Homo sapiens: one gene and its partners. The protein of the gene in region 7 purifies or fractionates together with the protein of the main gene of each other region. This does not show direct contact. Each region holds a gene or a part of one and is shown on either strand. Other genes may lie near its edges. The genes, in order: SEC22B, SNAP29, BNIP1, DKKL1, RINT1, NAPA and SCFD1.

The links.
Region 1: the proteins of SCFD1 (region 7) and SEC22B purify together in Homo sapiens (affinity purification with mass spectrometry; 3 studies listed by BioGRID and IntAct, with this or other methods). This does not show direct contact.
Region 2: the proteins of SCFD1 (region 7) and SNAP29 purify together in Homo sapiens (affinity purification with mass spectrometry; 2 studies listed by BioGRID and IntAct, with this or other methods). This does not show direct contact.
Region 3: the proteins of SCFD1 (region 7) and BNIP1 purify together in Homo sapiens (affinity purification with mass spectrometry; 2 studies listed by BioGRID and IntAct, with this or other methods). This does not show direct contact.
Region 4: the proteins of SCFD1 (region 7) and DKKL1 purify together in Homo sapiens (affinity purification with western blotting, with the first as the bait; one study listed by BioGRID). This does not show direct contact.
Region 5: the proteins of SCFD1 (region 7) and RINT1 purify together in Homo sapiens (affinity purification with mass spectrometry; 2 studies listed by BioGRID and IntAct, with this or other methods). This does not show direct contact.
Region 6: the proteins of SCFD1 (region 7) and NAPA purify together in Homo sapiens (affinity purification with mass spectrometry; 3 studies listed by BioGRID and IntAct, with this or other methods). This does not show direct contact.

Annotation. Positions count from the first base shown.
Region 1 is NC_000001.11:120,162,483-120,166,910, forward strand, and holds part of SEC22B (vesicle-trafficking protein SEC22b), read right to left. Parts: intron 889-4,428; coding exon 728-888; intron 1-727. UniProt on the Homo sapiens protein: SNARE involved in targeting and fusion of ER-derived transport vesicles with the Golgi complex as well as Golgi-derived retrograde transport vesicles with the ER.
Region 2 is NC_000022.11:20,861,079-20,865,506, reverse strand, and holds part of SNAP29 (synaptosomal-associated protein 29), read right to left. Parts: intron 1-4,428. UniProt on the Homo sapiens protein: SNAREs, soluble N-ethylmaleimide-sensitive factor-attachment protein receptors, are essential proteins for fusion of cellular membranes.
Region 3 is NC_000005.10:173,161,272-173,165,556, reverse strand, and holds the end of BNIP1 (vesicle transport protein SEC20), read right to left. Parts: intron 3,485-4,285; coding exon of another isoform or gene 3,412-3,484; intron 3,246-3,411; coding exon of another isoform or gene 3,233-3,245; exon of another isoform or gene 3,197-3,232; intron 1,833-3,196; coding exon 1,636-1,832; 3' UTR 1,170-1,635; downstream 1-1,169. UniProt on the Homo sapiens protein: As part of a SNARE complex may be involved in endoplasmic reticulum membranes fusion and be required for the maintenance of endoplasmic reticulum organization. Also plays a role in apoptosis.
Region 4 is NC_000019.10:49,369,869-49,374,296, reverse strand, and holds part of DKKL1 (dickkopf-like protein 1 isoform 1 precursor), read right to left. Parts: exon of another isoform or gene 3,154-4,428; intron 1-3,153. UniProt on the Homo sapiens protein: Involved in fertilization by facilitating sperm penetration of the zona pellucida. May promote spermatocyte apoptosis, thereby limiting sperm production. In adults, may reduce testosterone synthesis in Leydig cells.
Region 5 is NC_000007.14:105,541,498-105,545,925, forward strand, and holds part of RINT1 (RAD50-interacting protein 1), read left to right. Parts: intron 1-229; exon of another isoform or gene 230-358; intron 359-910; coding exon 911-1,152; intron 1,153-4,428. UniProt on the Homo sapiens protein: Involved in regulation of membrane traffic between the Golgi and the endoplasmic reticulum (ER); the function is proposed to depend on its association in the NRZ complex which is believed to play a role in SNARE assembly at the ER.
Region 6 is NC_000019.10:47,490,833-47,495,260, reverse strand, and holds part of NAPA (alpha-soluble NSF attachment protein), read left to right. Parts: intron 1-116; exon of another isoform or gene 117-233; intron 234-1,659; exon of another isoform or gene 1,660-1,767; coding exon 1,768-1,845; intron 1,846-2,086; coding exon 2,087-2,142; intron 2,143-2,215; coding exon 2,216-2,300; intron 2,301-3,141; coding exon 3,142-3,246; intron 3,247-4,404; coding exon 4,405-4,428. UniProt on the Homo sapiens protein: Required for vesicular transport between the endoplasmic reticulum and the Golgi apparatus. Together with GNA12 promotes CDH5 localization to plasma membrane.
Region 7 is NC_000014.9:30,729,975-30,733,918, forward strand, and holds part of SCFD1 (sec1 family domain-containing protein 1), read left to right. Parts: intron 1-3,944. UniProt on the Homo sapiens protein: Plays a role in SNARE-pin assembly and Golgi-to-ER retrograde transport via its interaction with COG4. Involved in vesicular transport between the endoplasmic reticulum and the Golgi.

The DNA of each region.
Region 1 (4,428 bases), on a different chromosome or scaffold from region 7:
AATTCTAAGCCAGTAAAACCAATTTCTCTTTTAACTAAAAATTTCAGCGATATAGCCTGATCCTACTTGTTCTCACTCCCTGTACTTACTGTACTTAGGACATTTCCTTTGATCCCTTACCATCAGATACTTTACCAGGTCTGATTAGTAATTAGTCTTTCTATAATTCTTGCACAAATACAGACACCTATGCTCACTATTCCTGAATGTAGTAAATATTATACCCCAATACCATGAGTACCAGGTATCTTCTATTTCTTTGTTATGTTTTGTTTTTTTAATTAGAGGATCTTATTCTACTAAAAGAAACAAAACATCATTCTTTCTGATTTCCCAATTCTGATCTCCATAAAATGAGCCTTATTGTGAGTGTGAGTCTGTGGACTGGGGTAAAGAAGAACTCAGCCATTATATGCCAATCAAGTAGATCTTTAGGCACAGTTCCTGTCACATGTGACTCTAAAGAAGAATCAAACCAAATAACAGAAAGGGCAAAAGGCAACAATTTCTATGGGGGAAAGATCAAAAGACTAGAGAAAATTACTTTTCAGAACAAAGCCTTAGTCACTCAAAAAGACAAAAAGAAGTGGAATGGAAAAGGATGCAGAAGCTAAAACTTCAGCAAGTAAACATCAGAAAAAATGTATAAATATTATATCAGTGTAACAAATAGCTTCTCCATATTGTTTGCTCCCTTGATAGAGAGAAGTGAGGGGCAAAAACTTACCAAATTCAATAAAGGAATAGGGTCGGGACACAGTGGGCACCTTCTTTCCATGCTGTTCATCAAATTCTGAGTGCAAATCTTCTAGGTAGGCAAAAGCCAACTTCTTAGGGAAGGCAGCTTCACATAAAACCAAATAACACACCCCCTGCTCAATAATGTAGCTGGTGAGACATAAAAAGCAAGACAAAGTTATCTGTAAAGTAATAGCACTGACAACAGTTTAAAGCAGAATCTCTGTACCATGCAAACTTTTTAAAAAATCTAGCCTAAATACTTTGAGGCTGGCTAAACGAGAGTCAATTTAAAACCGCAAATCCTTGGAATCAGAAAGCAAACATCTTCCCATTATTAGATGTATATTCTTTTTTTTTTCTTTTTTTTTTTGAGACGGAGTCTCGCTCTGTCCCCTGGGCTGGAGTGCAGTGGCATTATCTCGGCTCACTGCAACCTCCGCCTCCCGGGTTCAAGCCATTCTCCTGCCTCAGCCTCCCGAGCAGCTGGGACTACAGGCGTGCGCCACTATGCCCAGCTAATTTTTGTATTTTTAGTAGAGACGGGGTTTCACCACGTTGGTTGGCCAGGATGGTCTTGATATCTTGACCTCGTGATCCGCCCGCCTCAGCCTCCCAAAGTGCTGGGATTACAGGCGTGAGCCACTGCACCCAGCCTATTAGCCGTATATTCTAAAAGGAGTATTTAGACATATTTATTATAATTTTTCATCCATTAGATTCTCTTTTTTTTTTTTTTTTTTTTTTTTGGAGACAGGGCTCTTTCCATCACCCAGATTACCCAGGCTGGAATGCAGTGGCATGATCTCAGTTACAGCAATCTCCACCTCCCAGGTTCAGGTGATTCTCACACCTCAGCTTCACAAATAGCTGGGATTACAGACACCCACCACCACACCCAGCTAATTTTTGTATTTTTAGTAGAGATGGGGTTTCACCATTTTGGCCAGGCTGGTCTGAAACTCGTGACCTCAATCGATCCACCCAATTCAGTCTCCCAAAGTGCTGAGATTACAGGTGTAAGCCACTGGACCCAGCCCATTACACAATTCTTCAACTAACATTTTAAACTTTTATTTTAGCTTGAGGATGTATATGTGCGGGTTTGTTACCTGGGTATATTGCATAATGCCGAGGTTTGGGGTACAAACAATCCCGTCACCCAAGTACTAAGCATACTACCTAATAGTTTTTCAACCCCTGCCCCCTCCTTCCCTCCTCTTCTAGTAAGTCCTCAGTATATTTATGTCCATGAGTGCCCAATGTTTAGCTTATAAACTTATAAATGAGAATATACAGTATTTAGTTTTCTGTTCCTGCATTAATTCACTTAGGTAATGACTTCCAGCTCCATCCATGTTGCTGCAAAGGACATGATTTCATTTCTTTTTATGACTGCATAGTATTCCATACTGTATATATACTACATTTTCTTTATCCAATCCACCACTAACATGTACCTAGGTTGATATCTTTGCTATTGTGAATAGTGCTGCAATGAATATGCAAGTGCATGATTTTTGGTAGAAAGATTTGTTTCCTTTTGGATATAAACCCATTAATGGGTTTGCTGGGTCTAATGGTAGTTCTGTTTTAAGTTCTTTGAAAAATCTCTAAACTGCTTTCCACAGTGGCTGAATTTACATTCCCACGAACAGTGTATAAGCAATTCCTTTTTCTCCACAGCCTCATCAGCATCTGTTGTTTTTTGACTTTTTAATAATAGCCCTGTGACTGTTGTGAGATGGTATCTTATTGTGGTTTTGATTTGCATTTCTCCAATAATTAGTGATGTGCATTTTTTCATTAGTTTGCTAGCCTCTAGTATGTTTTGAGAAATATCTGCTCATGTCTTTTGTCCATTTTTTAAATGGGGTTGTTTTTTGCTTAATACTTAAGACTTTTTCTTGAAAAATTCAGAGTTGTGACTCCATCCACCCTTTGATTCTATATGGTAAACTAGCATACACATATTTAAACTCTTTCCAGCCACAAAGGAAAACACTGTAACTGGAAATTTCTGTGGATAGAAATGTAAGGTTAATGACATAATGTTTACTGGGTACAAGACTAATAAGACTCCTTAATTTACAGTCCAGGAGAACTCTGTAATCAACTGGAAACTTATCAACAATGGAACTGACTTTCTTTTGTGATGATGAGCGCCCATGCACTCTGGAAGGGGCTGTATGATTACACATCTGAGAAATTCTTAGAAAAATGTTAGGCTACTAAGTGGTTTTCCAACTTCTTTTTAGCCATAGTATACATACACACACATGCAAATATATATATTTATATATGGAATATGTATATATAACAAGCAAAACATATTCAGAAGGCCAATGTATATATCAGATAAAATCAGAGGTTCTTTAGTTTAAGTAGGAGTTTGCAAATATTTTCTCCCATTGTGCAAGTTGTCTCTTCACTGTGTTGTTTCCTTTGCTGTGCAGAAGCTTTTAGTTTAATACAGTCCCATTTGTCTACTTTCTTTTCTGTTGCCTGTGCTTTGAAGTCTTTGCCATAAAGTCTTCGCCCAGGTTCATGTCCTGAAACATTTCCCCTATGTTTTCTTCTAGTAGTTTTATAGTTTAGGGTCTTATGCTTAAGTCTTTAATCTACTTTAAGTTGATTTTTGTATATGATGAGATAGGGATCTAGTTTCATTCATCTGATGAGGAACTAATATCCAGAACATACGAGGAACTCAAACAACTCAACAGCAAAACCAAAAATAATTCAATTAAAAAGTAGGCAAGGAACAGAATTGACATTTCTCAAAAGACATGCGAATGGCCAAGTATATGAAAAAATGCTCAACATCACTAATCTTCAGGTAAATGTAAATAAAAACCACAACGACATATTATTTCACCCCAGTTAAAATGTCTATTAAAAAGACAAAAGTCAATAAATGCTGTTGAGGATGAAGAGAAAAGAGAACTTTTATACACTATAGAAAACAGTATGGAGGTTTCTCAAAAAACTAAAAACAGAACTACCATACAATCTAGCAATCCCACTGCTGGGTATTTCTCCAAAGGAAAAAAACTCATTATGTTAAAAACTTATCTGTACCCCCATGTTTACGGCAGCACCATTCATAATATCTATGGATAGATAATCAAGAGAAATGTCCATCAAGAGAATAATGGATTTTAAAAGTGTTTTTTACACACACACACACACACACACACACACACACACCATGGAATACTATTCAGCCATAAAAAAGAATGAATTTCTATCATTAGCAGCAACATGGATAAATCTGGAGGACATTAAGTTAAATAAAATCAGTCATGCACAGAAAGATAAATATGGCATGTTCTCATTCATATGTAGGAGCCAAAAAAAATTTTTGAGCTCATGGAAGTAGAGAGTAGAATTGTGGGTATTAGAAGTAGGGAAAGGTAGAGAGAAGGGGAGGATGGGCAGAGGCAAGTTAATGGATAAAAAATTACAACTGGATAGGAAGAATGAGTTCTGGTGTTCTGCAGAACTGTAGGGTGAATATGGCTAGCTATAACTTACCACGTATTTTCAAAAAGCTACAAGATTTTGAATGTTCACAACACAAAGAAATGATAAATGTTTGAGGTGATGAATATGCTAATTACTCTGATTTGATTACACATTGTATACATGTATTGAAATATCACTCTGTATCCCATAAATATGTATAAT
Region 2 (4,428 bases), on a different chromosome or scaffold from region 7:
TCCTTGGGACAATGTGGCAGCTGTGAGTGGATGTGCCCAGGAAGGAGAAGCCAGAAGCTCGAACAACCAGCCCATCCTCAGAAGGCATCCTGTTACAGCCAACAAGCCAGCAAATTGGCCTGGGATCAATGGTCTAATTCTTTTTTTTTTTTGAGACAGGGTCTCACTTTGTCACCCAGGCTGGAATACAGTGGCATGACCTCAGCTCACTGCAGCCTTGACCTCCCTGGTTCAAGAGATCCTCCTACCTCAGCCTTCTGAGTAGCTGGAACTACAGGCATGCACCGCCATGCCCAGGTAATTTTTGTATTTTTTGTAGAGCCAGGGTTTTACCACATTCCCCAGGCTGATCTTGAACTCCTGGGTTCAAGGGATCCACCTGCCTCAGCCTCCCCAAGTGCTAGGATTACAGGTGTGAGCCACCACACCTGGCCATCAATGGTCAAATTCAATCATTGATAGTTTACCAAAAATTAATTAAAAATAAATCCCGAACAGACCTAGCGGTGAGTATGTGGTCCAATGCCATTTCTCCACCAGACTCCCTCCCACCTGCTAGACACAGCCTGACATGTGTTGGGATGCATTTTCTGGTCACAGGACAGGCATTGCAACCAAGGCACACAGCTCAATGCATTCTTTCCACCCAACTCTCTCCTCCTTTTTCAGGCAATCTTCTGTTCCCTCCCTCCTTCCTTTCCTTCCCCAGGTCACTTATTCATTTGGCAACTATTTTGGGAGCGCCAATAACGCTTAAGGACATTGTGCTGAGAAGCGTGGGGGTAGAAAGTTGAGCAAGAGATGGGTAAGAGACTGCTCCTCTTCCACTGCTGACATTTACAAATTTGAGGAATTACTTAATCTAGCAGCTGCTTGTCCCCATCCATCAACTTTTGCTAAGAACTCTGGCTGCATCAGTATCACCACACGCTGCCTCAGAGGGGTGACTTTGGTCTGTACGGCCCCTCATTTGGAGTGGGCTGCTCCAAGACCAGAATCCCTGAGAATGAGGATATCACCTTTTGGCAATGTATCTACTCTAAGTTCCGGGGACACCTTGATGGCCTCTGCTCCTGGGCCAGGAGGGGTGTCCTCCTCTCTCCCACCTCTGAATGGAATGCCCAGTGTGGGTGACTGTTGTGTGCTGGAAAGACACAGAGATGGGTGGGCCCCTGCACGAGACGGTGTGGAGGATGTGCTGGCGGTGGCTGCTGAGTGCATCACGTTTGAACTCTCAAACTCTGTCCCTTTCCATTGATGTTACTGTGCCAGCCGTTCCAACCCTGGTCTAATGTTTGTTGCTGGACTCCCCTGAACCGAGATCTCGGGCCCCAGAAAACCTCAGTGGAGTTAAGTTCAGCTACAAGAGGGGAAGCAGAGTGTCCTGGGCAGGTGAGTCTCCTCCACTGGAGTGATGAAAAGGTGTACAAAAACCATGTCCAAGTAGGATGCAAATAGACTCACCAAAAGGTGTAAACAACCTCAATGCTCATCATTAGGGGACAGGCTGCATAAATAGAAGTCATTTGTTCAATGGAATACAACACAGCCAAAAAGAAAGCCCAGCTCATTACATACTAGTGTGGAACAAACTCCATTCTATTAAGCACATGCAGACCAGAATGTATACAATACTTCACTTAAAAAAAAAAACCCATTTTTATCCACGGCATTATCTCCCCAAAACACTGAAGGAGGGAAAGTGCCTGGCTGCCTTAGGGGCAGAGGGATGATAGGGAGGGAAGTGGGAGAAGACTACACCCTTTTGTATGTTTTGAAATTTTGAACCATGTGATTGGAATCTCTCTTCATAAAAATTAAACCTTAGGAAAAAAAAAAGAAGAAATCATGCTTACTAAACAGGGAAAGAGACGAGTGGCTTACAAGTCTCCCTGTAGTTCTACAAAGCGCCTACCAGGTCGGCCTGGGGAAACCGCCCTGCTCCCACTACTTCTCCTCTGTTCTTTTGTGGTCATAGCCTGTGGCCTGAGCCTTTGTGAGAAACAATCCTTGCCAGGTTTCACAGTAGGAGAAGGGCAGCTCTCTTTGCTAGAGGTGACTTAACTAAGCCATTTTCCTGCCAAGCTGGGACTGAATTATAATCTTCCCAACCTAATATAATTTGTAAAGTCCTCATCTTTGACATAAATCTGTCATGTGTTGGCATGTTTCACAGTGCTGGGGTAACCAGGCACCTAAGTTGGGTGATTAGCAGGGTATGCTGGAATTTGCTGGAAGCCACACTGTGCACTGAGGGTTGGAAGAGCTCATACTCCTCTGTTCCCATCCCAACACCAAAGGGAATGAAAGAGTGATTAGAGTGATTCAAAGACAGCTTGGAGCCTGTAATCCAGCACTGGGAGGCCAAGGTGTGCAGATCATCTGAGCTCAGGAATTCGAGACTAGCCTGGGTAACATGGCGAAAGCCCATCTCCACCAAAAATACCAAAAATTAGTCGAGTGTGGTGGCGTGCACCTGTAGTCTTGGCTACTTGGGAGGCTGTGGCAGGAGGATCACTTGCACCTGGAGGCAGAGGCTGCAGTGAGCCAAGATTGCACCACGGCACTCTAGCCTGGTTGACAGAGTGAGACCCCCATCTCAAAAAACCTCCCCCAAAACAAAACACAAAAACAAAGACAGCTTGGAGAACACTGGGTGTGGTGGAGATGTAGGTCATCCCTGACTCCCAGGGCTTCTCATAATTGAGAACTGACCCAATCCTGGAAAATTCCAACATGTTGTCTCACTGACAAGAGCACCTGTCACCTGCCCAGTCATGACCACACTGTACTTCTCACAGCAATGCCTGGCCTGGCCAAGCCTGATATGCCTGAAGTGCCACTCTGCCTCAGCTCTCACTGTCCCCACTGCATAGAAAGACCTTTGGGGGCAGCACGGGGCATGTCATCACAATCTATATCAAACTCACCACTATTACATTTTTGCCTCTCCTGCGCTATGAGACCAGAACTTTCCCTATGACCTCCAAGGGCTCCTAAGCTACCTCCTCCATCCCCTGTCCTCTAACACACCCAGTCTATCATGTCCCTCCTCTGGACCCAGGAGCTCTGTTGCTGGGCCAGTGCATTTGCATATTTTCCTGTCTTCCCTAAGAACATCCCTCATTCTCACTCCTCTTGTGTAAACCTCAGCCTTAAAAGCTAGATTCAAGTTTATCCTCTGCCACAATGCCCTACTTTGAATCATTGATTCCCTACTTCATTTGTTCTCAGTTTACAAAGATGTCTCCTTAAATAGTTGTTAGTTGAATTCCTTGGGCTTGAGATCCTCAATCATGTGACCCATTCACCAGGGCCCTAAAACCTCAGGCAATCCTCTCAAATCTAAGCCAAGACTTCCCATTTAGAATGGAACATAGGAATCCAGTAGGTATGAGATGTAAGAACTACAGGCAAAACCTCCCTAACAAGGTTAGGACCGGGCGCAGTGGCTCACATCTGTAATCCCAGCACTTTGGGAGGCTGAGGTGGGCAGATCACCTAAGGTCAGGCGTTTGAGACCAGCCTGCCCAACATGGCGAAACCTGTCTCTACTAAAAATACAAAAATCAGAGGCCAGGTGTGGTCGCTCACGCCTGTAATCCCAACACTTTGGGAGGCCAAGGCAGGTGGATCATGAGGTCAGGAGTTCAAGACCAGCCGGACCAACACAGTGAAACCCCGTCTCTACTAAAAATACAAAAATTAGCTGGGCATGGCGGCGGGTGCCTGTAAGCCCAGCTACTCAGGAGGTTGAGGCAGGAGAATCGCTTGACCTGGGAGGCAGAGGTAGCAGTGAGCTGAGATCGCGCCACTGAACTCTAGCCTGGGAGACAGAGCAAGACTCCGTCTCAAAAACAAAAAACACCAAAAAAACAAAAACAAAAACAAAAACAAAAAAATTAGCCAGGTGTTGTAGCAGGTGCCTCTAATCCCAGCTACTTGGGAGGTTGAGGCAGGAGAATCATTTGAACTGGGGAGGTGGAGGTTGCAGTGAGCCGAGATCACACCATCGCACTCCAGCCTGGGTGACAGAGTAAGACTTTGTCTCAAACAAAACAAAAATAAAAAACCAACAGTTAAACACAGGGAGGTGGGCTAGGTGCAGTGGCTCACGCCTATAATCCCAGGACTTTGGGAGGCCGAGGTGGTGGATCACGAGGTCAAGAGATCGAGACCATCCTGGCCAACATGGCAAAACCCCAACTCTATTAATACCAAAATTAGCTGGGTGTGGTAGTGCACGCCTTAGTCCCAGCTACTCAGGAGGCTGAGGCAGGAGAATCACTTGAACCCAGGAGGCGGAGGCTGTAGTGAGCCAAGTTGGTGCCACTGCACTCCAGTCTGGTGACAGAGCGAGAATCTGTCTCAAAAAAAAAAAAAAAAAACCACAGGGAGGTGGATCAATGAGGGATACATGAACAGAGA
Region 3 (4,285 bases), on a different chromosome or scaffold from region 7:
AATCTCAAAACCAAGTGTTTGAGCCAAGGATCAAAGTCCATGTTCTTCCCACTTTCCCTTCAGCCTCCACACTGCCCTTCCCAGGTCCTCTGGGGCTATAAATAGTGGGGGAGGCTGGGATTTCAAGCTTGAGGTCAGCCAGGCCTGCAGCACAAAAGACACAGCACCTCTAGGACTGGCCTAGCCTGGGCCCTCTCCCTCTGGCCTGGACAGAACTCAGGCTCACACAGTCTCAGCTTCTCACTAGCTTCTCCCTCCTTGGTTATACTTAGCTCTGGACATCAGAGAGAAAGGCATGTGCCAGCCCGAATCACTGCACACCCCCAGGCCTGGCCAGGCTGCTGTGGTAGAGAATGGCATTGCAGCCTTTTCAGATGTTGGTGTGAGCCACTTCCAACAAGGGCTGTTTTCTGTTCTGTTTCTGTTTTTTTGTTTTTTTTTTTTAAATACAGACAGGGTCTTGCTATGTTGTCTAGCTGGTCTTGAACTCCTGGGCTCAAGTGATCATCCTGCCTCAGCCTCCCAAAATGCTGGGATTAGAGGTATCAGCCACCACACCTGGTTGAACAGGGGCTGTTGGACCCTCCTTCCTGATAGTCTGTGAGATTTTATTTCCGTGTCTCCTTCTGTTCCTCCTTGAGGGAGGAACCATGTCTGGTTCACCAATGTATTTGTCATGTTCAGCAGCGTCTATAACACCCTGTGTGTGGCAGCTGTTTAATAGTTCCTTGTTGTTGGGTGGGGACAGAAAGAAAATAACAATGCTAATTCGTTGTTGAATGAATGAATAAATAAATAATCTAGGTTCATGTCCTAAAAATCTGGACATCAAGAAAAGAGGGCTGGGCATGGTGGCTCACACCTGTAATCCCAGCACTTTGGGAGGCCAAGATGGGTGGATCACCTGAGGTCAGGTGTTCGACAGCAGCCTGGCCAACATGGAGAAACCCCATCTCTACTAAAAAAATACAAAAATTAGCTGGGTATGGTGGTGTGTGCCTGTAATCCTAGCTACTTGGGAGGCTGAGGCAAGAGAATCTTTTGAACCCAGGAGGCAGAGGCTGCAGTGAGCCAAGATTGCGCCATTGCACTCCTGCCTGGATGATAGAGCAAGTCTCCATCTCAAAAAAAAAGAAAAAAGAAAAGAGGAACACACATTCCCAGAGGGCTATCTTACAAAATCAAATACATTTTATTCTATTAAATAAAATCAAGTTTATTCAAGGAATGACCAGGAGTTTTCATCACCTTTCTTCCTACCTCTTCTCTCTTCCCTCCACCAGATCTGGCATTTAAGGGCACGATGGGAGCGGGAGACAGGAGGGGCATCCGGTCCTGGAGGCTGGACTTTAAGTGCTCCACGCAGCAGCGGCCTCCCATAGTGCACAATGGTGGAAGGAGGCGGTTCGTATGTCCCCAGGGCGGCATCCCAATGCCAGACCTTCCTCCCATGGCTCTGTTCACCCTTTACAAGCCAGCTACTTGCAGAAAAGTGGGGCACTGTGTTCCATCCAACCTGCAGGCAACTGGTGCAAACGGAGGGGTGTGTGGCTCAGCTTAGCAGCCTAGAGCTCAGGAACCAGGACAGATCCTGAAACAGGAGCTGAAAGGGCCAGAACTGGCACCTTTGGGATCTCACAAAAATGGAAAGAGCCGCTTTTTCACAATATAGAGGACCGTAGCAAGAAACAGGGCTAGCGCAAGGAAGATGAGAAGCTTGTCCGTCAGCTCCCGGCGATTGTATTTTGTGATAAGCTTCCGGCCCAGCTGGATGGTGCCCGACATGGACTTAAATTCTTCATTTGCATCCAGGATCGTTCGTGAAGAAGTGACTGAAACAAAAGAGGAAGGAGGCCCAACTCAGAGACTGCAGCTCAAGATCCAAAGACCTCACTCTGCTGGCTGGGGTGCTGATAAAAACCAGCATTCTCAAGTGAGTTCCTCTGAGCTGGAATCAAAGCATGTGGAGACCAGCCAAGGAGCTGACAAGGAAAGGCTCCTCCCCAGGTCCCATCAGCTCCAGAGAGTGAGGGGGGGTTTGTCTGGGAGTCCTTGAACATGAGCGTCACCAGGGAGAAGGGCAGAAGAGGCTTGCTCACCCAGCCACCTCCTCAGCTCTCTGAAGCAGATGGACGCTGCTCAGGGAAACCACCAGCCACAAAATCAACCCAGGGATCGTGGGCAGGCACTGTGAGGTCTGTGTTGGGGCAGCAGCCAAATGCACCAGAACCTTCCACCTATGAGGTGCGGCCTCCAGGACATCTGCTGGCCAGACCGGCACTTTGCAGGATCTCAAAAGGGCAAGGGTGTCCCGGGCTCTGCCGTAAGCCCTCACACATACCAGTCCCTCAGGCCAGGGATACTGGCTGTAGCTTTAAGGAGGTGACACCTAAGAAGAGGCCCACGTCCCTTAAGGAATCACTGTCCCCAGAGTCAGATGTATTTCTGAATATGGGTATCTGGGCCTGACGCTGAGGGTAGAAGGTGTACCTGGCGAGGTTCTCCCACAAAACATAGCAAGGCATCATCAGAACAGCCATTGAATAGAACACATTAAGTGAAAAGGGAAAGTATAAAGGAACGCCTGTGAAATGTTTCCATTTAGGTAAGAAACAGGGAGATAAATGGTATTTCATTTGCTTAAGTTACAAAAGCTTGGAGGATCACAAGATATTTTTTAAGACACTGGTTACAGAGGTTGCCTCTGGGAAGTGGACCAGAGGGCTGGCAGGTAGGGGTCAGCTGGAGGTCAGAACAGAGAGTGATCTTTTTTGTGTCCCTTTTGTACTCTCCAGAGCTGTGCTGACCAATATGGCAGCCCCTAGACATGCGAGGCTGCTGTGCATAGAAAAACGTGGCTAATGCAAATGGAGATGTCAGGAGATGTAAGTGTCAAACCCACACAATGTTTCTTTTCTTTTTTTTTTTGAGATGCAGTCTCACTCTGTCACCCAGGCTGGAGTGCAGTGGCGTGATCTTGGCTCATCACAACCTCCACCTCCCAGGTTCAAATGATTCTCCTGCCTCAGCCTCCCCAGTAGCTGGGACTACAGGCATGCACCACCACGCCCAGCTAATTTTCTTTTTGTATTTTTAGTAGAGACAGGGTTTCAACATGTTGGTCAGGCTGGTCTCGAACTCCTGACCTCAAGTGATCTGCCCGCCTTGGCCTCCCAAAGTGCTGGGATTACCGGCATGAGCCACCGCGCCTGGCCAAAATCCACACGATGTTTCAAAGACTTAATCTAAGAAAAAGGAATGTAAAATATCTCAATAGTTTTTAATATTAGTTTTACATTGAAATTATAATATTTTACATAATGGGTTAAATAAACATCTTACTAAAATTAATTTCTTATGTTTCTTTTTACTTTTTAACATGTGCCTACTGGAAAATTTAAAGTTACATACGTGGCTGCTGTTGCGTTTCTATGGCAGTCCTGGGCTAGAGTTTTCTTATCCTTCTCTATGCTGTATGTGTTACCTTTTTAAAAATTAAAAGCTAATAAGTAAATAGGATAAATTATCAGAGGAAACACAGCAGCGTTTTGAAAATGACAGATAAAAGGAGAAAAACAAACACTCACAGAACAGGAATCCCTCTCCGCCTGCTTTCTCCACGCCTGCCTGCTGCGATTTCAAAACCCTGAGATCTTGCTAAGTAAAAATCTAATAGGCCTTTCTTTTTAAACTTTATTATTACGGAGAATTTTGAACCATCACAGAGCAGACAGCATAATATCATGAAATGCCATGTGTCCACCACCCATAACCAAGAACCACCAACCTCTGAAATCCTGCTCCCCCTCCCCCCAACTGCAACTACTCCTGCAATTGTGGAGCAAATTCCAGACACCATATTCCTAATAAGCTTTTTGTTTTAAAATTATGGTCCTAGTAGGCTTTTAAATCAAGCTGAATTTGTGAGGCATAAGGAAAGGGTTAAGAACTGTATTCTTCTCTTTTCTTCAATAGTTATCGCTTGTACAAAATGGGCCCCAAGAACACCGGGACCCTCTCAACACCCCAGAAGCCACCAGCATTTGTGTTTCCTTCCCACTGTTAGCGGGGGGTATGCTGTCGCCACACCAGAGCATAAAAGCCCTGGGCTCAGAGGCCAAGTTGTCGCCTTGCTCCCTCTCTCTCCAAGGCCTCTCCCACAGCACACGCTGAGAGGAAGCCCCTGGCTGGTTCCGAGCCCAGATGTTCAGGTAAGCTGCAAACTCAAGGAGTGACCTTGGGGTCACCTGCTTGCTTTCCTTTTGCTTCTGCCTATTTGGTGCAC
Region 4 (4,428 bases), on a different chromosome or scaffold from region 7:
AGCTTTCAAGGGGCCAGGTGCAGTGGCTCATGCCTGTAATCCCAGCACTGTGGGAGGCCGAGGCTGGCGGATCACGAGGTCAGGAGATCGAGACCATCCTGGCTAACACGGTGAAACCCTGTCTCTACTAAAAATACAAAAAAATTTAGCCGGGCATGGTTGCGGGCGCCTGTAGTCCCAGCTACTCGGGAGGCTGAGGCAGGAGATTGGCATGAACCCAGGAGGCGGAGCTTGCAGTGAGCCGAGATCGCACCACTGCACTCCAGCCTGGGTGACAGAGCGAGACTCCATCTCAAGGGAAAAAAAAAAAATAAAGCTTTCAAGGACAGCTTTGAGTTGAGGGAGAAAGTTTGAATATGGACTGAGTGTCTGTTTGGTCCTTGCAATTCAAAGGGTGGGCTGCTGTTGTTAGGTATGCAAATTAATAGGTCCCACCCCACTCAGACCTGCTGAATCAGTCTGCCTTTTAGTAAGATGAGGTCTGAGAAGCCGCGCAGGAGATTGTTATGTGTTAAATTGTTTCCTCCTGGCTGGACGCGGTGGCTCATGTGTGTAATCCAGCACTTTGCGAGGCTGAGGTGGGCAGATCACTTGAGGTCAGGAGTTTGAGACCATCCTGGACAGCATGACAAAATCCTGTCTCTACTAAAAATATGAAAATTAGCTGGGCGTGCTGGCGCGCTCATGTAATCCCAGCTACTTGGGAGGCTAAGGCAGGAGAATCACTTGAACCTGGGAGGCAGAGGCTGCAGTGAGTCAAGATTGTGCCATTGCACTCTAGCCTGGGCAACAGAGCAAGACCCAGGCTTAAAAAACAAACGAACAAACAACCATATTGTTTCCTCCCCAAATTCATATTTTGAAATTCTAACCTGTAATACCTCAGAATGTGGCCTTATTTGGAACTAGGGTCATTGAAGATATAATTGGTGAAGATGAGGTCATTAGGTTGGGCCCTAATCCAACATGACTGTGTTCTTTTTTTTTTTTTTTTGAGATGGAGTCTCACTCTGTAGCCCAGGCTGGAGTGCAGTGGCACAATCTCGGCTCACTGCAGCCTCTGCCTCCTGGGTTCAAGCGATTCTCCCACCACAGCCTCCAGAGTAGCTGGGATTACAGGGGCATGGCACCATGCCAGCTAATTTTTGCATTTTTAGTAGAGACGGGGTTTCACCATGTTGGCCAGGTTGGTCTCAACCTCCTGACCTCAGGTGATCCACCTGCCTTGGCCTCCCAAAGTGCTGGGATTACAGGCGTGAGCCACCATGCCCAGCCTATTTATTTATTTATTTTTTGAGATGGAGTTTCGCTCTTGTTGCCCAGGCTGTAGTGCAATGGTGCTATCTTCGCTCACCGCGACCTCCACCTTCTGGGTTCAAACGATTTTCCTGCTTCAGCCTCCTGAGTAGCTGGGATTACAGACATGTGCCACCATGCCCGGCTAATTTTGTATTTTTAGTAGAGACGGGGTTTCTCCATGTTGGTCAGGGTGGTCTCGAACTCCTGACCTCAGGTGATCTGCCCGCCTCGGCCTCCCAAAGTGCTGGGATTATAGGTGTAAGCCACCACTCCTGGCCATACTTTGTATTTTTTTTTTTTTTTTGAGACGGAGTCTCGCTCTGTCGCCCAGGCTGGAGTGCAGTGGCACGATCTCGGCTCACTGCAAGCTCCACCTCCCGGGTTCACGCCATTCTCCTGCCTCAGCCTTCTGAGTAGCTGGGACTACAGGCGCCTGCCACCATGCCTGGCTAATTTTTTTGTATTTTTACTAGAGACGGGATTTCACCGCATTAGCCAGGATGGTCTTGATATCCTGATCTCATGATCTGCCTGCCTCGGTCTCCCAAAGTGCTGGGATTACAGGTGTGAGCCACTGTGCCTGGCCCCATATTTTGTATTTTTAGTAGACGGGGTTTCGCTACGTTAGCCAGGCTGGTCTCGAACTCCTGACCTCATGATCCGCCCGTCTCTGCCTCCCAAAGTGCTGGGACTACGGGTATGAGCCACTGTGCCTGGCAGGAGGCAACTTCTCTCTAGTGGATAGAGCCCAGGGATGTTATCAAATATCCTACAGTGCACAGGGCAGCTCCCACAATAAAGATTATCCAGCCCCACATGCCAATGATGCCAACCTTAAGAAATTTTGGTTTATGGAAAAGAGACTATAGGGATATTTATTATACTATTTTTTTTTACCATAAAGACACAGGCACATGCATGTTTATTATGGCACTATTCACAATAGCAAAGAATTGGAACCAACCCAATTGTCCATCAGTGATAGACTAGATAAAGAAAACATGGCACATATACACCATGGAATACTATTCGGCCACAGAAAAGGATGAGTTAATGTCCTTTGCAGGGACATGGATGAAGCTGGAAACCATCATTCTCAGCAAACCAACACAAGAGTAGAAAACAAAATACTGCATGTTATCACTCAAGTGGGAGCTGAACAATGAGAACACATGGACACAGGAAGGGAAACATCACACACCAGGACCTGTCGGTGGGGGGTGGGGGGTCAGGGGAGGGATAGCATCAGGAGAAACACCCAATGCAGGTGACGGGCTGATGGGTACAGCAAACCACCATGGTACATGCACCTATGCAACAAAACTGCATGTCTGCACATGTACCCCAGAACCCAAAGTATAATTTAAAAAAACATAAAAATACTATGTCTTAATATAACTTACTGTACCATGGATTTGTTAAAAACTAAGGTAAGTCATTAAGAAAATGATACAAAGCATAAAAGATCATTTATCAAAATTACAAAAACTCTAAAACCAGTGGACAAAGATCCAAAAAAAACTAGTAAAACAATTGAAAAATTATTTGAGTAATAAAATGTAACTATGATGACGCAATGACAGCTTGCATCTTAAAACAGGTTAAAGAAAGAATATTTTTTAAAAAATTAAGAGAATGTAAAAGTCCAGAGAGAGTAGCAAAATCCCCAAAACTCTCACGGTCCAGATGGTTGCTGGGCCAGGGTGAGGTCTTGTGACCCGGCCCTTCCAGGTGTTCAAAAAATCTGTAGGGACTTCTAGCATAAAAAACAAAGGTCACAACAGGTCAGGTCAGGCTCTTCAGCATCCTCATCCTCCTTGAACTCACTGGGTTACATTTCTTCTGCCTTTTCAGGCTTTGTCTCTATTGTTTTTTCTGCAGGTGCTGGGAGAGTACTTGTTGGCATATGCTGATGGTCATCTGCATGATTGGACTCTTCCATATCTGCTCCAGAAGCTTGAGTGTCTCCACTACAGGAAGAGTCTTTGTCATTACTGGTTTTAGAAAAGCTGTCCTCAGAGCCACCATTTTTCTTGATGCCTTTCACGGTGACAACGGCCAGCACTTGCCCTGAGGACATCTCTTCAGGAAGCTCTGCTACAAGAATGGCGAAGCAATCTTTTTTCTTGGCATCTCATTTTGCCCTGTGAAGAGATAGGGCTGCTTCTGGGGACTTTTCACTGATCACCATCCCCGCCAGGTCATCCTTGAAATCATTTACCTGGACTCCCTAGGGTGCCTTCACATTACATGGGGCCTCCTTTTCCTTGATGTTGTTGGCAAATTCTTTCACTGGATTATCTATGGGAACTTTTTCCTTGGCACATTTGTCGGCATTCAGATCCAGTGGAGCATCCTCATGTGAGCTTTCGTTGGTGAGGTCTTCCACCAGGGTATCCTCCATGGGAACTTTTTCCTTGGCTCATTTGTCAGCCTTTAAATTTAGCAAAACATCCCCATCTGAGCTTTTGTTGGCAAGGTCTTCCACCAGGGTATCCTCCGTGGGAACTTTTCCTTGGTGAATTCATCAGCCTTCAATCCAGTAGAGCGTCCTCATCTGAGCTTTCATTGGCAAGGTCTTTCACCAGGGTATCCTCTGTGGGAACTTTTTCTTTCATGCGTTTGTCAACCTTCAAGTCCAGTGAGGCATCCTTATCTGAGCTTTCGTTTCCAAGGTCTTCCACCAGGGTATCCTCCATGGGAACTTTTTCCTTGGCACGTTCTTTGGCCTTCAAATCCAGTGGGGTGTCCTAATCTGAAATTTCATTGGCGAGGTCTTCCAGAGGATCCTCCATGGCACCTTTTTCCTTGGCACATTCATTGGCCTTCCAAAGCCATGGGGCATTTTCATCTGAGCTTTCACTGGCTTGGTATCCTTCCAGGATATCTTCCATGTGAACACTTGCCTGAGTTGCTGAGTCTGTCAAGTGAACAGCAAGAACCTGTTCAGAGGAAGTGTCGCTGGTCTGCTCCCCTGCCAGGTTGTCCTTGAAATCTTCAGATGGCTACCTGCCAGGGTGCACATGAGGATGACACCTGCGGTGGCACATTCTCTCTCTAAAACTGCGCTGGCAGACCATGGATTCGCCATGGACAGTGGAGTCTCCTGAAACCTGAGTATCCACTGCT
Region 5 (4,428 bases), on a different chromosome or scaffold from region 7:
CCTGGCACGGTGGCTTATGCCTGTAATCCCAGCACTCTGGGAGGCTGGGGTGGGCGGATCATGAGGTCAGGAGTTCGAGATCAGCCTGACCAACGTGGTGAAACCCCGTCTCTACTAAAAATACAAAAATTAGCCGAGCGTGATGGCACGTGTCTATAATTCCTGCTATTTAGGAGGCTGAGGCAGGAGAATCACTTGACCCCGGGAGGTGGAGGTTGCAGTGAGCTGAGATCACGCCACTGCACTCCAGCCTGGGTGACAGAACGAAACTCTGTCTCAAAAAAATAAAATAAGTTTTCTCTAGCTGGATCCTCTGCTGAGCCTATGGAGGCAGACCTCTAGATGCTTACTGGAGCCAGTGAGTTAAGTCCCTTTCTCTACATGTATGTGTATATGTATGTATGCATATATTTTTTATTTTATTTTTATTTTTTTGTTTCACTTATTGTTTTCAACACAAAGGCATACTTCTTCCTGCTATTTGTGTGTATATAAAACAGCATGTTATGTTTGGATTGATTAGTACAGGATGAAGAAATCAAACCTTTTTTTGAAGGTTTTGATGGATGATTTTCAGTTCTGTTACAAAAAATGTGTATTTTGAAGGGAACGAACTAATAAAAAAGGTTACATACAGCCTGGGCAACATAGTGAGACCTTATTTCTATTTAAAGAAAAAAAAAAAAGAAAAGCCAGGTGTAGTGGTGCATATGTGTAGTCCCAACTACTGGGGAGGTTGAGGTGGGAGGATTGGTTGAGCCCAGGAAGTCCAGGCTGCAGTGAGCTATGATGGTACCACTGCACTCCAGCCTGGGCAACAGCGTGAGATCCCCTCTCAAAAAAAAAATTATGAAAATTTTATCTGATTGCTGCTGTTCTTTCTTTCTTTCTTTTTTAAAATTATGGTCAGGTACTTACAATTTCATCAGAAATTCCTAAAAGAATTCGAAGTGCCTTAAAAAATGCAGAAGAATCAAAGCAATTTCTTAATCAGTTTCTGGAGCAGGAAACTCATCTCTTCAGCGCCATTAACAGCCATTTGCTGACTGCGCAACCTTGGATGGACGATCTTGGAACCATGATTAGCCAGATTGAAGAGATCGAACGTCATCTTGCTTACCTTAAATGGATTTCACAAATTGAAGAACTAAGGTAAAATGGGCCTCTTTGTTCTCACAATTACTATTTTCCTTTGAGGCTTCTGTCTTAGAGAGTACATGTGTGCCATTAAATAATTGAGTTAATTAAAGATTATAATAATATAATTTTACCAGTTGTTGTGAAAATAGCATTATGATAATGATTCTTTTCCTTTATTGTGAGTGAACATAAGCTTTTCAGGGAGCTTAATTAGCATTTGAAAGAAGGTAATGTAAGTACGTTAAACTTTTAAGTTTTTTTTTTTTGAGATGGAGTCTCGCTCTGTCGCCCAGCTGGAGTGCAGTGGTGCCATCTCGGCTCACTGCAAGCTACACCTCCCGGGTTCATGCCATTCTCCTGCCTCAGCCTCCCGAGTAGCTGGGACTACAGGCGCCCGCCACCATGCCTGGCTAATTTTTTTTTTTGGTATTTTTAGTAGAGACGGGGTTTCACCATGTTAGCCAGGATGGTCTCGATCTCTTGACCTCACTGTCCGCCAGCCTCGGCCGCTGGAAGTGCTGGGATTACAGGCATGAGCTACCGCGTCCGGCCAAACTTTTAAGTCTTACAGTTGGATTATGAACACATGATAAAAACTATTCTTTGTAATGCCAAATTAATAAAACACAAAGTTTGGTAATAGTTATTCTTATTTAATTTTTAGAACTGGTCAGTTAATGAAATGGATTGCTTTTGTATAATTTGAATATTTTTCAGTGGGAATCATAAGAGCTACACAGTATTCTTGGATGAATAACAAGAGTTCTGCTACCTCTGGGTAGGAAAAACAAAAAAGGAAGTAAGGCTTGACCTTAGTTCTTTTTGAGTTGAATACCTATCACTGGTAGTTAATTGTATCTAGCTTTGCCTTTCAGACAACCCAAAGTAACATTTCCACCTAGATTAGTAGATGATAAGGTCCCCACTATCCTTGCATTGTTTTAACTAGTACTTGCTGCAGAGCTGTCAGCAACCATTAATTTTGCCTGGAAAACCTGAGGGAGAAAAGTCTTCTGGGAGTCTTAATGTCCTGTTTCAAATGTATCATAGTTAATAAACCTGATATTACTTTTGTTATGGATATGTTTTATGTATTTCTTTTTCTTGCATATATTTCCCAAAATTTTAAAGAATTTTACATATCAATATAATATAGAAATCTTTGTTTTTAGGCCAGGTGCAGTGGCTCACACCTGTAATCCCAGCACTTTGGGAGGCCGAGGCGGGCAGATCACGAGGTCAGGAGTTTGAGACCAGCCTGACCAACATGGTGAAACCCCGTCTCTACTAAAAATACAAAAAAAAAAAAGAAATTAGCCAGGCATGGTGGCGCGTGCCTGTAATCCCAGCTACTTGGGAGGCTGAGGCAGGGGAATTGCTTGGACTCGGGAGGCAGAGGTTGCAGTGAGCTGAGGTTGTGCCATTGCACTGCAGCCTAGGCAGCAAGAGCGAAACTCCGTCTCAAAAAAAAAACAAAAAAAACAAAAAAACTTTGTTTTGCATGTATGAGGAGTTTTACATATAAAGTGGTTTAGAACATCTCATTCTTGTTTAGATAAATTATTTGCAGTGAAGGAATTTTAAACCTTGCTTTATTTTACTGCATTTCTCCTTGTCCCTCAGAAAGGAAATATCAGTAAGGGGCAATGTTAATAACTTTATTAAGTAAAATACGTTATTTGAAAACCTCACTCTTGTAGTAGCCAAAGTAATAGATTAACTAAATTAGGTCCATGGTTATTGATAAACTTTTCTTTTTTCTTCTTTTTTTTAACATTTATTTTATTTATTTTAATTTTCTTTTTATTTTTTTTTGAGTTGGAATCTTCCTCTGTTGCCCAGGCTGGAGTGCAGTGGCACAATCTCAGCTCACTGCAACCTCCACCTCCCGGGTTCAAGCGATTCTCCTGCCTTGGCCTCCCGAGTAGCTAGGACTACAGGTGTATGCCACCACGCCCAGCTAATTTTTGTATTTTTAGTAGAGATAGGGTTTCACTATGTTGGCTAGGCTGGTCTTGAACTCCTGACCTCAAGTCATCTGCCTGCCTTGGCCTCCCAAAGTGCTGGGATTACAGGTGTGAGCCACTGCACCTGGCCTTGATAAACTCTTCAGATATCTGAATTGTTTATAAGGGAAATATGCCGAGGGATTTATATTAGAAATAGGGATCAAATTCATAAGCAGGTAGAGCACAGTTATTTTTCTGTCTTTAATAATGTGTTATTTCCCTGAGGTCTTTTATGATAATCTCTCCATTTCCAGCTTTCCTTTAGAGCTTCTGGGATTTTCTTCATCTCTAAATTTTTTTATAATGGCCTATTTTTATTCTGATGTACATTGTCTTTTTTTCAAGTAGTTTCTTCTTGCTAGAATTAGCATCCTTACATTAGCTCTGTTTCTTGGATACTATAGTATAGCACTATCACTCTGAGTGAACCTTGTTTCTCTAGCTTTTCCTATGTTGTAAATGTCATTCATACTTTAGTGTTGTGAGGAAATCTATTTCATTCCTTCCTTAAAAGCAGTACTCCTGCCGGGCATGGTGGCTCATGCCGTAGTCCTAGCACTTTGAGAGGCTGAGGTGGGCAGATCGCTTGAGCTCTGAATTCTGTGACCAGTCTGGGCAACATGGCAAAACCCCATCTCTGTTTAAAAAAAAAAAAATCAGCCAGGCTTGGTGGTGAGCACCCATAGTCCCAGCTACTCGGGAGGCTGAGGTAGGAGGATCGCTTGAGCCCCGAGAGGTTAAGATTGCAATGAGCCGTGATTGTACCACTGCACTGCAGCCTAGGTGACAGAGTGAGACTCTTTTAAAAAAAAAAAAAAGGCAGTACTCATATTCTGTTTGTACATTTGAAATTCTTCTGTAATATTTGTATATATATATATATATTTTTTTTTTTTTGAGATGGAGTCTTACTCTGTTGCTGAGGCTGGAGTGCAGCGGCACCCTGTCAGCTCACTGCAACCTCTGTCTTCTGGGTTCAAGCAATTCTCCTGCCTCAGCCTCCTGAGTAGCTGGGATTACAGGTGCCCATGACCACGCCTGGCTAGTTTTTATATTTTTAGTAGAGACGGGAAGGGTTTCACCAAGTTGGCCAGGCTGGTCTCGAACTCCTGACCTCCGGTGATCCACCCATGTTGGCCTCCCAAAGAGGCCACCACGCCTGGCCTCTTTTTCTTTGAGACGGAGTCTCACTCTGTTGCCAGGCTAGAGTGCAGTGGCATGATCTTGGCTCACTGCAACCTCCGCCTCCCGGGTTCAAGCAGTTCTCCTGCCTCAGCCT
Region 6 (4,428 bases), on a different chromosome or scaffold from region 7:
GCATGTTGGGAGGCTGAGGTGGGAGGATCTTTTGGGCACAGGAGTTCGAGACCAGCCTGGGCAACATAGCAAGACCTCCTCTCTACAACAAATTAGCCTGGTGTAGTGGCATGCACCTGGGGTCCTAGTTCTTGGGAGGTTGAGGCAGGAAAATCGCTTGAGTCCAGGAAGTTGAGGCTGCAGTGAGCTGTGATCACACCACTGCACTCCAGCGTAGGCGACAAAACAAGACCCTGTCTCAAAACAAAAAAAGAAATTAGGTTACTGGAGAGTGTGTGTCCGGCACTTCCCCTTGCCCAGCCTTCCCGCAAGTGTCACATTTGATAAGCATCTTGCAGCAGGCCACAGGGATAGGCAGAGCCCACAGGAGGCTCAGCACCTGCCCTGCCCCCAGGGCGCGTTGCCAACGACAGATGCAGACCAGATGGGCAGCTGCCAACTGGAGCCAGAGTGAAGGGTCCCACCCAGGCCGGGGCTCCTGTCAGTGCTTTCTCTCTCTCTCTTTTTTTTTTTTTTTTTTTTTTTGAGACAGAGTTTCTCTCTCATCTAGGCTGGAGTTCAGTGGCGTGATCTCCACTCACTGCAACCTCTGCCTCCCAGGTTCAAGCGATTCTCGTGCCCTAGCCTCTCGAGTAGCTGGGATTACAGGCGTGTGCTACCATGCCTGGCTAATTTTTGTATTTTCAGTAGAGATGTGGTTTCACCATGTTGGCCAGGCTGGTCTCAGACTCCTGACCTCAAGTGATCCACCTGCCTTGGCCTCCCAAAGTGCTGGGATTGCAGGCATGAGCCACCGTGCCTGGCCAGCTCCTTTTTGCCTCTCCGCTTGCCCTGTCTGTCTCAGCCCTCCAACCCCAGGCAGGGACACGAGCCCTACCCCTTGCGTTCAGGGCAGTGCTGCAGGGATGACTGTGATTAGAACAATAATAGCAGCTGCCATTTATTAGGCCAGACACTGCAGGGTGGTTTAATCCACAGCCCTGTGAGGTTGGCATTATTGTCATCCCCGTTCCTTAGTGGAGGAGAGGGGCTCAGACAAGTGACATGATTTGCCCAGGGACATGTGGCTACAAGCAGGAGTCACTGAGACCCGAAACAAGGTCTGGCTGAGCCCAGGGCCTTGCCCTTTCCTACTGCCCTCAGCAAGGGGGTGGCGTTGGACCAGCCCCTGGTGCAGAGCAGTTAGGCAAGCGCCTGGACACTGGGTGGAGGCGGATGGAAGGTGCGAGGCCCCTTGGAACCTGAGGCCTCCCTGGGGAGCTCTGGGTGTGCCTGGGGGAGGCTGACAGATAGGTGTTGGCCTGGGGGCAGAGCTGGTACTCTTGGGCAGAGGTCTCAAGCCCTCCCTCCCATCCTGGTTTCTCCAGAGCCCTTTGCCAAGTGGCTCTGGACTGGTCCTTCCGCCTCTCTGGCTGTTATCAGAGGCTTCCTAAGGGCCAGGGCCTTGGCCAAGTGCTCGTGCTCACATTCTCTCTGGTGTCACACCATCTGTGCCCTCGTGGATGGGATGGAATTAGGCTAAGGCCCTGGAGTGGCTTGTCCAACATCACCCGCTCAGCCCAGCACGCATAGCCAGGCCTCTAGTGCTGGGGCCCTCCCTTCTCACTCCTGTGTTCCCCCACCTCTCGATCTTCTTCACACCTCAGGTCTTCTTCATACCTCCTCACAGGCGTGGCTGAGGGGTGGGAACTTGAAGGGTCATAGGTCAGCAGGCAGGCACGCAGGAGGTCATGAGTCGCAGGCAGCCCCTTCCTGTGTCCCCTCCAGGGCCGATTCACGATTGCGGCCAAGCACCACATCTCCATTGCTGAGATCTATGAGACAGAGTTGGTGGACATCGAGAAGGTGAGTGGCAGCAGGGCCCTGCATGGGCTGGCAGCCAGGACCAGTGCTGCTCTCTCTTCTTCCCACCAGGGGAGTCCTCTGGTGTCTGAGTGCCGAGAAGGGGGCATGGGGCGCCGGCAGAGCTTGGAGAATGGGGTCTGGCTGTGTCCCAGGCAGGCAGGGCGGAGGGTGTGGAAGCTTCACGGAGGCCTCCTCTCCCTTCCCTGCCCTCCCCTGGAACCCATCCCCCGTGTCTCCCCAGGCCATTGCCCACTACGAGCAGTCTGCAGACTACTACAAAGGCGAGGAGTCCAACAGGTAGCCCCCTTCCTGCCTGCCCCAGCCCCGCAGGGACCGCCACCACTTCCCCTCACTACTCCTCCCCACACAGCTCAGCCAACAAGTGTCTGCTGAAGGTGGCTGGTTACGCTGCGCTGCTGGAGCAGTATCAGAAGGCCATTGACATCTACGAACAGGTGGGGACAGGTGGGGATGGCGGCTTCCACCCTGCCCCCTCTCAGGGCCTGTGCCTCCTCCTAAGCCCCGGCACCTTGTTCTGGAACCACCCCTCCCCCGGCTCACCCTCTGCCTCTCCCCCGACATCCCTTGCCATGTCATCCCCCCACCCTGTCTTCAGCCTGGCTGAATGTTCTCCACCTACGACTCCATGCCGTGCCAGCACCGTCTCTCTCCCTGGCTGTGCCCCTCCCACACCCCTCGCAGAGCTTCCTGGAGGGGCCCAGAGTGAGGCTGGCTAAAGAACCCAGAGGGAGGGAATGGGAAGAAGTGCCAAGAGGCCCAGGGTGGCCGTGGGCACCCCACCCCATGGCCCGATGGTCCTCATCCACAGTGGGAGGGAGGGAGTGTCACATGGGGTCCCCCCAGCGTGCACGGAGCCCTGGGTGATGGCCGAGAAAAAGGCAGGCAGCTGGCCCCCTGGGAGAGAGGGGCGGGCGCCGCCTCTCATGTTCCCACCGCCTGCCGCCGCTCTGCCCACCGCCATGCCAGCCTCCCGTTGGTCCTGACAGCCAGGCTGCCTCCTTCCCACTGTCTCAGGCTCTCAGAAGGCCCACGAACACCTGGCTACAGCCTCCACCCCCACCCAGCCACCATCACACCCTGATCTTGGTCGCTCACGCACTGGCCGCTGACCTCTCCAAGCTGGTCCCTGGCTCCCTGCCCTTGGGGTCCTGGGTTAACAGGGCCTCACCTCGGGACATGAACCAGCTCCCAGCTGGCCCCCCAGTGCCTGGCAGTGGCTCTGGCCCTCTGGCTGCTTGCCCTGAGCTCACCAGTGCCACTTCTCCATGGCTACAGGTGGGGACCAATGCCATGGACAGCCCCCTCCTCAAGTACAGCGCCAAAGACTACTTCTTCAAGGCGGCCCTCTGCCACTTCTGCATCGACATGCTCAACGCCAAGGTAGCACACCCCACGCCCGCAGGACCACCGCACCAGGCCACCATGTGCTTATCTCCAGGCCAGGTCCCGTTGCCCCCGAAGAGGGACGTGCTCCTCCCTCACGTCTGGCCCCTGCCAGCCAGCCTTTGGATGAGAAGTGTGGTTCTCACAGCTGTGTTTCTGTGCTGGCATCACCTGCCCACCCAGCCCTGGAGGCTTTTGCGGGTCCAGCTCCTGCCTCACTTAGTGCTCTTTCCTTCATGGGTGCACTTTTTGAATCCTCACTGCACCCCATTAAAGTCAGCACCATTGTCACCGCGTCTTATGGGTGAAGATGGTGAGGCTGGGACGAGAGTCCCTTGTTTGAGGCCACATGACTAGGGACCTGCAGCCCCAGTGTTCCAGATCTTTGTGACTCCTGCTGTCGTGGCTTTAGCTGTAGCTCACACATGCCCACCTATTTTCAGGACACTTGGCAAAAGAGGGGCCAAAGAGGGCAGTGGGAGGGGGCGTGGCCAGCGGGAAGGAGCTGGAGGGTTGGCGCTAGATTTTGCTTGGCCGGAGTTTTTTTACCATTGCCTGGCAGAAGCACGGAGTCCAGGATTTCCTGGTGTCCCTGGCTCACGGCCTGGGGTGGTGGCCCCACACACCCCACACACACACACCCCACAGAGCCCTGCCCTGCTGTGGGCACCGGTGGTGGGCAAAAGCTTGGGCTTTGTCAGACCAGGTTCCCATTCCCACCCCATGTCTCACCGTGCCCTGGGCAGGTCACTGCCCCTCTCTGGATCTGTTTCCTCACTTTGAAAAGGGGGCTCACCGTCATTTGACCCTCTCAGGGTCCTCAAGAAGCACCAGCCCCAGGCCTGGCATGGAGGATGTGCTCATTTGTCCCCTGCCCCAGCTGAGCCAGGTGGGAGGAGGCAGTGGGTGCCTATCTGGGGAACCTTCCCCCTCCACCCACCTCTCCCTGCAGCCATCTCTGCAGCCAGGCTGGTGCTGAGCTCAGCTACGGGAAGGTACTGACAGACACAGAGCCAGGTGACACCTGAGGCTGGGGGAGGGGTGCAAGAGCTGACTCAATATCACCCGACATCCCCAAGTCCCCTCAGCTGCTAGGCCAGTAGCTCTGAGGACCCTCTTGTTACTAACTCATCTTCTCCCTTCCCTGCTGCCCAGCTGGCTGTCCAAAAGTATGAGGAG
Region 7 (3,944 bases):
GTTAGGTATATCTCCTAATGCTTTCTCTCCCCGCTTCCCTTACCCCACTACAGGTCCCGGTGTGTGATGTTCCCCTTCCTGTGTCCAAGTGTTCTCATTGTTCATTTCCCACCTATGAGTGAGAACATGCAGTGTTTGGTTTTTTGTTCTTGCTATAGTTTGCTGGGAATGATGGTTTCCAGCTTCATCTATGTCCCTACAAATGACATGAACTCATCCTTTTTTATGGCTGCATAGTATTCCATGGTGTATATGTGCCACATTTTCTTAATCCAGTCTATCATTGATGGACATTTGGGTTGGTTCCAAGTCTTTGCTGTTGTGAATAGTGCCGCAATAAACATACCTGTGCATGTGTCTTTATAGCAGCATGATTTATAATCCTTTGGGTATATACCCAGTAATGGGATGGCTGGGTCAAATGGTATTTCTAGTTCTACATCCTTGAGGAATCGCCACACTGTCTTCCCCAATGGTTGAACTAGTTTACAGTCCCACCAACAGTGTAAAAGTGTTCCTATTTCTCCACATCCTCTCCAGCACCTGTTGTTCCCTGACTTTTTAATGATTGCCATTCTAACTGGTGTGAGATGTATCTCATTGTGGTTTTGATTTGCATTTCTCTGATGGCCAGTGATGATGAGCACTTTTTCATGTGTCTGTTGGCTGCATAAATGTCTTCTTTTTAGAAGTATCTGTTCATATCCTTCGCCCACTTTTTGATGGGGTTGCTTTTTTCTTGTAAAGTTGAGTTCTTTGTAGATTCTGGATATTAGCCCTTTGTCAGATGAGTAGATTGCAAAAATTTTCTCCCATTCTTTAGGTTGCCTGTTCACTCTGATGGTAGTTTCTTTTGCTGTGCAGAAGCTCCTTAGTTTAGTTAGATCCCATTTGTCAATTTTGGCTTTTGTTGCCATTGCTTTTGGTGTTTTAGACATGAAGTCCTTGCCCATGTCTATGTCCTGAATGGTATTGCCTAGGTTTTCTTCTAGGGTTTTTATGGTTTTAGGTCTAACATTTAAGTCTTTAATCCATCTTGAATTAATTTTTGTATAGGGTGTAAGGAAGGGATCCAGTTTCAGCTTTCTACATATGGCTAGCCAGTTTTCCCAGCACCATTTATTAAATAGGGAACCCATTCCCCATTTCTTGTTTTTGTCAGGTTTGTCAAAGATCAGATGGTTGTAGATGTGTGGTATTATATCTGAGGGCTCTGTTCTGTTCCACTGGTCTATATCTCTGTTTTGGTACCAGTACCATGCTGTTTTGGTTACTGTAGCCTTGTAGTATAGTTTGAAGTCAGGTAGTGTGATGCCTCCAGCTTTGTTCTTTTTGCTTAGGATTGACTTGGCAATGCAGGCTCTTTTTTGGTTCCATATGAACTTTAAAGTAGTTTTTTCCAATTCTGTGAAGAAAGTCATTGGTAGCTTGATGGGGATGGCATTGAATCTATAAATTACCTTGGGCAGTATGGCCATTTTCAGGATAATTGATTCTTCCTATCCATGGGCATGGAATGTTCTTCCATTTGTTTGTGTCCTCTTTTACTTCGTTGAGCAGTGGTTTGTAGTTCTCCTTGAAGAGGTCCTTCACATCCCTTGTAAGTTGGATTCCTAGGTATTTTATTCTCTTTGAAGCAATTGTGAATGGGAGTTCACTCATGATTTGGCTCTCTGTTTGTCTATTATTGATGTTTGGGAATGCTTGTGATTTTTGCACATTGATTTTTGTATCCTGAGACTTTGCTGAAGTTGCTTATCTGCTTAAGGAGATTTTGGGCTGAGATAATGGGGTTTTCTAGATATACAATCATGTCATCTGCAAACAGGGACAATTTGACTTCCTCTTTTCCTAATTGAATACCCTGTATTTCTTTCTCCTGCCTGATTGCCCTGGCCAGAACTTCCAACACTATGTTGAATAGGAGAGGTGAGAGAGGGCATCCCTGTCTTGTGCCAGTTTTCAAAGGGAATGCTTCCAGTTTTTGCCCATTCAGTATGATATTGGCTGTGGGCTTGTCATAAATAGCTCTTATTATTTTGAGATACGTCCCATCAATACCTAATTCATTGAGAGTTTTTAGCATGAAGGGCTGTTGAATTTTGTCAAAGACAAAAGGCATTTTCTTAAGTTCATTTTTGGATTCCTCATTCCAAGTGCATAAAAATCCAACCGATTTTTATGTTGATCTTACGTTTCACAGCCTTGCTGAGTTTATTAGTTCCAATTGTTTTTAATGGATTTTTAGAAGTTTCTATATACAAGATCATGTTATCTATTAATAGAGATAGTTTTGCTTCTTTTCTATCTTCTGCAACTGCCCTGGCTAGAACCTTCAGTACATTGTTGAATAGAAGAGGCAAGAGCAGACATCCTTGTCTTCTTTCTCATCATACGGGCAAAGCATCTAGTCTTTGACCATTATATATTTTATTACATTATTCATAGATGCCCTTTAGATCCATTAAATTTTTAGTAGCTACTAAGCTCCCCAGTTTATTGTCCTGAGAGGATTTTTAAATCCCTTTTAGTTTTTTTGTCCTGAATAATCCTAATCTTTTCCCTACCATTCAGCCCTATTAAGAAGGAACTGAGCTAGGTCTATGACAGCCTTCCTCACATCATTAGAAACCTGTGTCAGTACAGTCTCGTAGTATGAAACTAAACATGCGACTATGCCTACATGAGACTGGCAATACAGAATTAACTAACATGGCCCTTGGTTTATACTAGTCCACAACATAAGGGGCAAGTGCCAGAAAATACTGCTGTAATTCTGATTTATTTAGTAATGTTGTTAATCTAACTCACAATGTAAATGCTATTTGGTATAACTTTGGTATAATTGGTAAAAAATAATTTGACTGATTTTATCAAAACATTTGATAATACTAATATTGATGAATTGGGAACTTGACTTAAAACCACAAGGTATTCTCTTGATGGAAGGTGATTGGTTAGAGAAAGAACTACACTGAGTTAATTTTACATTGAATCAATATACTGGTACATTTTATAAAGTTCGATTTTTTTTTCTTTTTTTTTTTTTGAGACAGAGTCTCATTCTCTCACCCAGGCTGGAGTGCAGTGGCGCAGTCTTGGCTCACTGCAACCTCTGCCTCCCGAGTTCAATCAATCAGTTCTCCTGCCTTAGCCTCCTGGGTAGCTGGGATTACAGGCATGCGCCACCACACCTGGCTAATTTTTGTATTTTTAGTAGAGATGGGGTTTCACCATGCTGGCCAGGCTGGTCTCGAACTCCTGACCTTGTGATCCACTTGCCTCGGCCTCCCAAAGTGCTGAGATTACAGGCATGAGCCACTGCGCCCAGCCCATAAAGTTCAATTTTTAACTGACAGAGTAAGTAAAGGGGTCATCAAGCTTGTACATGATTAAGAACAAGTTTGCACTGGAATGTTTGGTAAACTACAGTGTTTCTTTAAAATTACACCTACACTTCATTGGATGGCTAAAAACGATTAGAAAAGAATGATGATGAGTAATTTGGTTAAGAAAGCTTGGTCCAGGGTGGGGACTGTACAAGTCAGGATTAATCTCAACTGGGCTACTGTACCCCTGTGCTTATCTCCAAGAATACCAGGATCCATGGTGCTGATGTTTAGCCAAACCTGAATGAAGTATTAACTAGTGATGAATTCTGGGCCTGGGCTAGAGACTACGATAAACCAGGGGGCAACCTTGGGCTGGCTTGCCAGCATTGTTTAATAGAAAATGTAAAGATTGATTTTACATTTTTCACCTGGTTTCTGTCATGTTCCCTTGGTTTCTGCAGTTGAGCCTGGTCATGCTGGTCATGCAGCCCAATTTTGCCTACCTGACCAGAGAGGCATAAAAGACCTCTCCTTGAACAAGAATCAGGTTCTCCTGGGAGCTATGCCTAGAAGTTCTGGACCCCTCTAATGTTTCCCTGTGCCTGCTTTCTC